Regions from separate parts of the Homo sapiens genome. Here region 2 is linked to region 1. Evidence: fine-mapped expression QTL. A gene starts in region 1. The other region holds a variant in brackets. All regions are shown on one strand. Distances are from middle to middle. Region 1 holds the start of OR2M4 (olfactory receptor family 2 subfamily M member 4). Region 2 has its middle 8.8 kb from the start of OR2L8.

The links.
Region 2: its variant is fine-mapped to the expression of OR2M4 in prefrontal cortex (GTEx, PIP above 0.99).

Annotation. Positions count from the first base shown.
Region 1 is chr1:248,229,263-248,234,657 of GRCh38, forward strand. OR2M4 (olfactory receptor family 2 subfamily M member 4) reads left to right here and starts at 2,155. Exons shown (of 2, transcript NM_017504.2): 1 at 2,155-2,318.
Region 2 is chr1:247,937,316-247,942,710 of GRCh38, forward strand. It overlaps a transcript of OR2L13 not described here and the pseudogene OR2X1P. Among named protein-coding and RNA genes, the nearest start is that of OR2L8, 8.8 kb to the right of the region's middle. The variant G/A (reference allele first, on the strand shown) is at 2,401.

The DNA of each region.
Region 1 (5,395 bases):
GCTTTTGTGGCAGATAAGTGGTGGTGGGCCTCTGGCAGTGGTGGGGGTTGCTAGCATCAGTGCACACAGATGTGTTAGTGGTAGGGGTGCAACAGGCTGTCTGTGCATCTGTGAATACTAGGAGGCAGGGTACACTCATGCTGGTAGAGTGGGGTGGCAGGGAGTACATGCATACCTGTGCCTGCAAGGGATGGGAGATGAATTCCCTTAGAAAGCAGTGGGCGTGTCCCAGCAAAGCAGTAGCGGAAGGCTTCAGCTGGGGGAGCTATAGGTCAGCTGGTGCATGTCTGTAGGGCCAGTCCGCAGGAGCTCTCTGACAGGAGCAGTCTGTGGCAAGGTGGTGACGATGAAAGCCCCCAGGAAGCACATATGTTGGGCATCCAAAGCTGTGCTGCAAGCAGGCATGGCCAGGCTGGGGACCCAGAAGAGGCTGGCAGATGAAGAGCCTTCAGATTAGACTGGCCCTGTCCCACAGGCAAGACCAATCTGCTCTGTCCAGTTCTGACAGTCGCCCAAAGCCTTATAGAAGAGCCTGGTGAGCCTGGGGGGATGGGCATCCCTGGCTGTGATCCACTGCAGTCACTTCAATGCCAAACTGTCTGGGCTTTACGCAGGATGGAGTCCTGCCCCTGTCATCTCTCTAAGTAGCTCTCCTTGCAGCTCAAGTATCTTTGAGAATCATAGAGTCTTGTGCTGCCAGAATTCTGGAGATCCACGTTGAAAGCTGGCTACTCTTCACCTGTTCAACTCATGCCTTCCCCAGGAGTTGCATGCAAGGCTTAAAACCTAGATGATGGCCAGGCATGGTGGCTCACACCCATAATCCCAGCACTTTGGGAGGCTGGATCACAAGGTCAGGAGATCAAGACCATCCTGGCCAACATGGTGAAATCACATCTCTACTAAAATACCAAAAAAAAAAAAAAATTAGCCAGGCATGGTGGCATGCATCTGTAGTCCCAGCTACTCGGGAGGCTGAGGCAGGGGAATCGCTTGAACCCGGGAGGCGGAGGTTGCAGTGAGCCGAGATCGTGCCACTCCACTCCAGCCTGGCAACAGAGCGAGACTCCGTCTCAAAAAAATAATAATAATAAATAAAAATAAATAAATTTTAAACAAGTCTAGATGATGGGTTGATGTGTGCAGCAAACTACCATGGCACATGTAACAAACTTGCATGTTCTGCACACGTATCCCAGAACTTAAATTAAACTTTAAAAAAAGTCATTGCTGCAGACAAATGAAAGCTTTTGAGAGTGGAGAGAAGCAAGACCAAATGTAGACTTGTTTTGAATTAGTATAGTGAATTTACTGGAAAATGCAAAGGATATATCTTAAAGATATAGGCCACATACAAGTCTTTAGTGCCCCTTTAAATTGTCAATCACATGCTTGCATACGTTTAGGCATCTAAGAGCTTATTTACATTTATATCAGCTTAAGCATTTGGTGTTTTTTTGTTTTTGTTTTTGTTTTTGTTTTTTTGACGGAGTCTCACTCTGCCACCAGGCTGGAGTACAGTGGCGCGATCTCGGCTCACTGCAACCTCCACCTCCCGAGTTCAAGCGAGTCTCCTGCCTCAGCCTCCTGAGAAGCTGGGACTATAGGCACGTGCCACCAAGCCCGGCTAATTTTTTTTTTTTTCTGTATTTTAAGTAGAGATGGTGTTTCACCGTGTTAGCCAGGATGGTCTCCATCTCCTGACCTTGTGATCCGTCTGCCTTGGACTTCCAAAGTGCTGGGATTACAGGCATGAAGCACTGCACCCGGCCCAGCTTAAGTATTTGATACAATATACTAGAAATAAGTTAAAAATGTTAACACAATTGAGAAGGCAGGTTGACAGATTTCATTTACTTTGTAATAAATATTCCCTGTTTTAATTTTAATCGCATTTTAATAATCTGTAAAGATTTAAGTTTCTCATTAACACAATTTACTTCCTAAAGAAAGGTAGGCAGCCATTTATGACTTTATAGCAAGTAAAGAATGACAGTATTGGCAAAAAGTAACTAGAGCCTTGGGGTCCACATGGATTTTGTTTCCTAGGAGAAATTCTGAAAGAAGGCATGCCATCTATAATTGATGTCAGGGGATTTAACATTTTGTGGAGGTATAGAATTTAAGGTCCATGATGCTGTAGGGTGGATAGGCCTTCGGACAAGTGGGTCATTTGGACTACTGGAGTTGCTGCTTTTGAATCTTTTCTAGAAGAGAAAGAAGAAAAGGTTGTAATACAGCTCAGGCAGTGATTATTATATTCCAGAGTATAAAGAACCCAGAACTGATTTGGCGAATTTTCCCCTTGATCACCACCTGTGAGTAAGACATATAACACTCTTTAAAAGAAAAAAAATTCCGTTATGTCTTGTGCTGACCTTATATGACTTTATTGAGGAAAATCACGAGTTCATGTGCATTAAAAAGCTTTTGGAACACTATACAGAATCACACAAGTGTAAGCCTTCCTCAACCTGATTATTACAATTAGGTAGTTCTTCACAACTACCTAATTGTGGAGTATCCTGGAAATGTCCTCATTTCTCCTGCAATCCTGGACTCTCTTTCTGTTTCATACTAAAAATGAAGGAAAAGAAGAAAGAGAGACATAGTATTCTTAATGGTTATTTTAATTTATTGAATATTTATTGAAGCTTTATGAGAAACATAACTATCTTCTACCTGGTGGATCTACACCTCAACATGAATTTACAAAAACAATCATATACCAAGTGGTGTCTATCTACTGCTTCAAACATACATGAAAATTTGGACTTAAAAATTTTCTACATACCACCCAGTGTAAATTTTTAGTTTAGAAATTATTGGGGAAGTGATTCACTCCCACAAAGTACCCAGTTTTCTTATTTGTGTTCTTAATTTTTCATGAAATATACTAATTCATAAAATTCTGACAATCAATGTTATAAAGACGAAGTAAAGAAAAATTTAATAAAATCTGATTTAGTTAAATTCCACAGTGTGTGAGACATTCTTGAAATCTGGACACATTGAATATGCTACAATATGTGGTTGGAAATCTTCAGGTTGGTAAAAATCACAAGGTCTAGGGAAAAGCTGGACTCAGTGGGGTTGAGCTTCTTTCCAAAGACTTTGTGCCCACTTAGATCTCTTCATAGTTTATGTGGTTTCTCCTTCTCTGATCGCCATTAATATTCCAAAATTTCTTATCACTTCAGGCCCTCTTAATATTATTTTGTTTTCTTTTTATTTCTATTTTAGCTCTAATTTTAGCACTTATTTTCCTCATATGCCTTCACCTCTCTTCCAGACACTTAATTCTTCCTCTCACTTAGTCAAGTGCCTTCTATCATTTTCCTCATTCTTCTCCATTTTTCATTAATAATTGGCATAAAATCATATGGAAGAATCAAAATAGTTCTAGCAATGTGAGGATTTTACAATTTCATGTGACATTGTAACGCAATTCTATTCTTAAAATGGAAGAGCAAAGAAAGGTACTGCTCCTTCTTTATGTTGATACCTTCAAAATGAGGCTAGATTTTGTATTCATTTAGAGAGGCATCAATATTTTTATATATTCTTGTAGGAAATTTGGATTCCCTCTACATCTCTGCAGGATTAAAATAAAAGAAGTACCTAGAACATAGTAATCATACAAATGAATGAATGTGTCACCAGCTGAGGAGTTATTCTCTAGTTCAACATTTGCTATATCTTGTTATTTATCACATTCTTCTATTTCTAAACGTTAAAATGGATAATGTAAATTTTATTTTGGAATATTGACATAACAGTTTAATTTAGTTAAGATAAAATAAAGCCATGTTACTTTTTGTGTGTCATGAACATAAGTAAAGGGGTCTCTGTTATTTAGTTTTCCTGCTTTAAAAGGGATTTTACCATTAATTATAATCAGCAGAAGTTCATTTAGAGTACCAAGATATAAACAGAACATTTCCTGGGGAAGGTGTTAGCAGCAAAAGGATTTCAAACTAGTTTTCACTTTATAAATAAAGTGTTGTGATAGGCATATGCCACATACCATTAAGATGTAACAGAATCTGCTCTGGCCTTAAGGGTGTATAATACTTGGTTTGATGTACAAATTTGAATATATAGCTTGCTGATATGAAGTAGGAAAGCTTGCTATATGTCTACTTATGGGATGAGTCATGGATACATCCAAGAAAAAAGAGGAGATAATTGGATTTCTTTATAATTTCATTGAATTCCACAGAATAAATTTGAAAACTACTACCTGCTTAGTATTTCTTAGTGGAATAAAAAATAAACACCAAGGATAAACACTCACAATGGTAAATAATCTTCAGAAAATAGTCAGTATCAAAAAAAATTATATGAGTATGCAAAAATATTGATGTTTCTATACAGCTAAATACATTTTGAAAAATAGTAGTAGGAAATAACAACAAAGACATTTCATCATTTCAAGCTTTGAAATCTGGAAATTCAAAAAAAATTTGGTGGCAGTTATGTATATCAGGCAGAAATAACAGCAGGACTAGCTTTGGATTGAGTTTTATTTGGGATATAATTAATTTGGGACTCCAGGGTACTGTTTTACAATATGATGTTTTAGAGCCATGTTTGAAAAAAAGGCGGGGGAGGGGCTAGAGATAATAATTGAGAGCTTTTTACAAAGACCTGATGGTTGATTTTATTTCCACCATCTTCTTCTTCCACTGTTATTGCCTGGGGTTTTACCCTGGCTCCCTTGGATAAAGAAGGTGTTTGCTCCATGATCTTCGGGCTCGCAGATCTAACCTGTTCAAAGCATCAAATGTGCAATGTCCAAGATATTTTCTCAATGCAAAATCATTTTACTTCACTTCACATCTTTAGTCCACAACATAAATTTCCTCTTTGATATTTGCTTAATTAGAAACAAAATTGAAATGTATTTAAATACTCTGATTCTTTATATTTCTCCAGATGCATTTCTTGTAGTGCTCCCTGCTCCACACAACTACATCCTGAGTTCTGCCCATCTTGAACTGGGCTGAGTCAAATATTTTTTTTTTTTAATTTGTATTTTATTATAGGTTCCAGGATACATGTGCAGAACATGCGGGTTTGTTACATAGGTAAATGTGTGCCATGGTGGTTTGCTGCACCTATCAACCCGTCACCTAGGTATTAAGCCTCACATGCATTAAGTATTAGTCCTGATGCTTTCTGTCCCCTCAACCCCCTTAACAGGCCCCAGGGTGTGTTGTTCCCCCACCGCTGTGTCCATGTGTTTCAACTGTTCAGTTCCCACCTATGAGTGAGAACATGCGGTGTTTTGTTTTCAGTTCCCATTCTATAGGTTGCCTGTTTGCCCTGATGAATTATTCTTAGAAAACTGAAACACCTTCATTCATGTCCCTGCAAAGGACATGATGTCCTT
Region 2 (5,395 bases), 290 kb before region 1:
AGGAAGGGCTCTGCTCTACACACTGGTGTCTCCTGCGGAAGGGCAGCTGGGCACGCCTTCCAGACCGAGGTATCAGACGAGAGGCCCCCTGGGGACGGGGCGGTTACCGCAGTCTCCCTTCTTGCTCCCGACTGTCAGCCCTCCTCCCCTCCCATCAGCAGCTCAGGGATGGGGCTGGCTCTGGGGCCTCCTCTTCCATCAACCCCTCAGCTACGGGGCTGGTTCAGGGGACTCCTCCCCTCCCATCAGCAGCTCAGGGATGGGGCTGGCTCTGGGGCCTCCTCTTCCATCAACCCCTCAGCTACGGGGCTGGTTCAGGGGACTCCTCCCCTCCCATCAGCAGCTCAGGGATGGGGCTGGCTCTGGGGCCTCCTCTCCCAGGCTCAGCTGCCGCTGGGACCCACTCCCCTGAGCGCCTCTCCCCTAAGTAATGTTATTCATAGCAAAAACTAGAAAAACACATTTTAATGAAATAAATGTTCAGGTTAATTTTATTATAGCATGCCAACTAAATGTTTTATACTATAGAAATAAATATTTAACAAAATATGAAGATATATATGAAACTTTAATGAAAAATGATTAGCCTTTCACAATTGGAAAATTAAAAACAATAGTAATAAATGTTAACCATATTTTGGTGAATTGGACATCATAACATATTGTAGGCATACATGAAATATGGTACAAACATTTTAAAAAGAACAGTGTGGCAATATATATTAAGGACCTTAAATAAACTATGAAATTATCTTCTAATAATACAACTATTTAATGTTCATAATTTAGACATAAAATAAGCAATTATTATATATTAATAACATTTTTTCCCTGACAATTGAGTTTTTTTACTTGATTCCAGTCCTGTAACAGTCTCCTATCCCTGGTGTGCTAAGGAGTTTTATTTCAGTAGAGAATGAGTAAAATTACTAATATAATGATATATAAAAATGTATTGCTAAGAGACGTTCAAAATTGACTGGAAGTGCTAATGTTAATATTAGATGCATCAGGTGCTGTATTTTTTTAAAGCCTGCTTTTACAACTCATAATAATACCTAATGTGGACCCAAGAGCAGCATGAAATCAGAGACAGTAAAAATCCGAATAGCAAGATATTATTGTAAGCAAGAGAAAGTCATTCTGCTGAACAGATCTGAGGATGATATAGAAGTTTAGAAGTCAGAATTCATAGATTTACAAATTTCCAGATTAAAATACAAAAATAATCTGTGATAGGGCTAAAAAACATTTTTTTCCTGTTGGGGATATAGAAACATAGAAACGCCTACATTGAGGGTAGTAGAAGACTTCATGTAAATAAACATGCCCACACACACATGCACACATACACACTGACACACACACATATATTTTTCTTAATAAAGAGTGTAAAGAGCATGGTTCAATCAGTGTGGGATTGTAAAGCATACTTGGATGAAATTGGAAGTGGAAAGTAAGATATTTTAAACATTAACCACATACCTAAAGTACTGCACATAGAAATAATTAGGCTTAAAGGTAAAGCCTATCACAATCTAAAGACATGCATTTGTAGTGGTGCGTGTTCAGATACCTGGGTATTGTGGTGGAGATACACATAGTCTTTTGAACATTCCGTTGTAGGTCGCTGGTAGCTGGATATGTCCTTTAAACTTTTGTGGCAATTCATTTGAGAAGAAACGCAGCTTTTTCTATTGAGTTCTTATGCTATAAGTAAAGGATGCAAGACATTAATTAGACAAAATAAGGTAAAATTTTGTATTCGCTTAGAGAGTTTAAGAGGCTATTAGCCACTAGTCTCTATAGTGCCTAAGTAAATCGATTCTGCTTAATAAACTGCTACCTGGCTTAGTAAGTAAACAAATTGAAACTTATTTTAGGAAAGAAATATATATTCTTATATCTACATCAGATTCTCTTATGTAGAAACACTAGAGGGTGAATGAGGAGTTAATGTAAGCAGCATCATATTTTTGCTCATTCCTTTCTCTATGATTTCTGCTTCTTCTGTCCAAATTCTGTGAGGTGTCCTCTAGATGAAATTATCACAGGCATGGAAAAGGTCATTTTCCACTTGGTCCATCCTCATGATTGCAGTTGTAACATACTGGGACTCATTCATTTTCACATATGTATATGAGACTTAAATCATCCACATTTCAGGCCAGGTTAAGTTTCTAGAAATATTCTATGCTTTCCTTGCACTTACACTCAATCCTGTCGTCTACAGCGTTGGCACTGACAGTGTTCTGGTGGCAATGAAAAATATGCTCTAGAGCAACATTCTACATAAAAAAAAGAATAGGAAAATTCCTTTCACTTGTGTATTCCCTCTATTTCCACATTCAATGTCTATAGAGTGTTGTTAGTTTCTTTGGAAAGAAAACCGAACCTTCT[G/A]TCTTTCTAAGTGTAGAAAGATGTGGATATTTTCAAAACCCCAATAATAATAAAGTTTTTACATATGTTTGTTTTTTCAATGCATGTCTAAAAATGTATTGTTCCTCTTGTGGGTACCGATTTCAATCACTCAACACACTCTAGAAAGACAAAGATAACCTAAGGCTTCCACCACCCTCCCACTAAAATTGTAAGAATATATAAGAATTACATTTGAAATACAATCAAACCATTATATTAAAAACATGTACTAATATAATATCTGTGTTTTTATGAAACTTCCTAAAATTGTATTTCAAGTCTCACAATCAGTTTCTTTTCAAAAATCTACAACTCCACTTGAAATTACCATTATTCATTGAATGGTTTGTTTTGACACTTTAGTTTCCTCAAGTGAAAAATACATGCACATACACATATATACATACACATACTTACATACATTGATTGTAGTCAAATCAAGTTTCTCATTCTTTGTTGGAAGCATGAATACAATATTTAAGAATATCCTGAAAATTATGTCTTATTTCATGTATACATACAGGCTTATATTTTACAAACCCTTCTAACAATTTATCCTAAAAGTTATTGCAAAGAGAAAAATAAATGTTTCTATTAGGAATACTTTTAAATGGTTTTATTAATAGGAAAAACTAGAAAAACATTTTAATGAGGTAAATGTTTTAAGTTAATTTTATCAAGTTAACTAGATTTTGTATATTTAATAAATATCATAAAGTATTTAACAAAATATAAAGGTATCATAGCAAGCTTTAATGGGTGAAAGTGTTACTTTGCCTTCTATAATTGGAAACTTTAAGACAGTAACAATAATTGTTATCAAAGTTTTGGGTTGAATTTAACAGAAAACCTATAGGTATTCCTTATCCAACTCACTGTTGATGAGCACCTAGGTTGAATGTATGTCTTTGCTGTTGTGAATAGTGCAGCAATGAACATATGAATGCATGTGCCTTTTTGGTAGAATGATTTTGTGTGTGTGTGTGCATACGTGCGTGTGTGTGTGTGTGTGTGTGTGTGCGCGCGCTAAGCAATGGAATTGCTGCGTCAAATGGTATCCTTTTTAAATTTTTTGAGAAATCTCCAGACTGCTTTCCATAGCTGCTGGACTAATTTACATTCCCACCAACAGCATATAAGAATTCCCTTTTCTCTGCAGCTTCATCAACATCTGTGCTTTTTTTTAAATTTTTTGTAATAGCCATTGTGACTTGTATGAAATGGTGTCTCATTGTGGTTTTGATTTGCATTTCTGTGATGATTAGTGATGCTGAGTATTTTTTCGTATGCTTGTTGGCCACTTGTATGTCTTCTTCAGAGATGTGTCTGTTCATGTACTTTGTGCATTTTTTAATGGGGTTGTTTTTTGCTTGTTGATTTATTTAACTTCCCTATATATTCTGGGCATTAGATATTTGTCAGATGCTTAGTTTGCAAATATTATTTCCTATTCTGTAGGTTGGCTGTTTCCTCTGTTGGTAGTTTCTTTTGCTGCACAGAAGTTCTTTCATTTAGTTAGGTCCTGCTCATCAATTTTATTTTGTTGCTGTTAATTTTGGAGACTTATAAGTCAGGTAGAGGAGTAAGTATTTGGGTTATATCATAGATATTGAAAGGTTTGCTCTCTGAGGCATGTCAAAAGAGAGTTTAGATATATAAAGAATGGTGAATGGATACTAGACTTTCTGATGAACTAGCATTACCATGCCCCTCATTTATTTATTTACATGGTCATTGTAAAGGAGATATGGAATATGTAAGAAGTTTGTTATATGCATGATACTTGGAGAAATAGACATGGAAGATGAAAAAAATAGATGGATTTTGGTCTTGATTCCTCAATTAAACCAACAAATTCCTGTGGTGCTATTTGGACAGACGCCGAATGGAGAGAGATAGAGAAAAAGAGAGAGAGAGAGAGACCTTGTCATGAAAGAGAGAGACCTTGTCATGAAAGAATTTGTGAAACAAATGGACAAGCATTGGTACCTATAGAACCTAGTGATGGAGTGTGACTCAGAGCTGTGTACAAAGGCTGTCTCTTCATTTCATTAATGAATACAATGTGTGGCAGGGATACAGGAATGTCTCTTATTCTCTTCGGCATCTTAAAGTTTCTGTATGTTTCAGATTTTGTGGCATGGAGCCTTCCTAGTGAGAATCCCAATCATGATTAATTCCCATTTGGTCTCACAAGCTGGTAAATACTGGGAATTATTGTGTTACTATGACTGTAGCCTCCCAGTACCAGTCTTGGTTTCCTTTCTTTCTGTCCTTCAATCCAGACTGGCTTTCAGATACACACATACACAAAAAAACTACATGATCTCACTTACATATTGGGCCTAAAAATAATTGGAATAAGTTGCCCAGACTGGTCTCAAACTCATGGGTGCAAATCATCTGGAAACCATCCTCACAAAATGAATAAAACTAAATTCTGGGTTTTTAACCAAAAGCATAAACTTTTAGTAGAAGCATACAGTAAGCATGAACCAGCTTGCCCAATAACCTATTTTGTGTGGCTGCTTAGTGCTTAAAAGTCATGTAGCCCCTGTCACAAGGTCCTCATTTCCCTTAATTGCTTCTTTAGATATCATCTTTAATATTAGGAAACCTCAAGTTTTCTACATAAAATGTTTTCTAGATCCTGAATTCCAGTGGGTCCACGGAACCAGTGGGGCTACCGAGCTTGTCTGAGAAACTGACTCAGTGTACTACATGTTCTACTTGCCAATAATTAAACTAGTAATATAAATTATATAATATTGGATTAGTCTTAATCCCAGTCTCTTATTGATTCCTAATGACATTTATGAAAATAATTTGGTGTTCTAAATTTTCTATAAAAAATTGCCCAAAGTCATAAAGTAACTGAAAATAAATTGCTCTGCAGAGAAGCAGAAACCTGCCAAAATTTTTAAAAAATGTATTTGGAAATTAAATTAGAATAGTTTCAGTGCATTTAAATGAT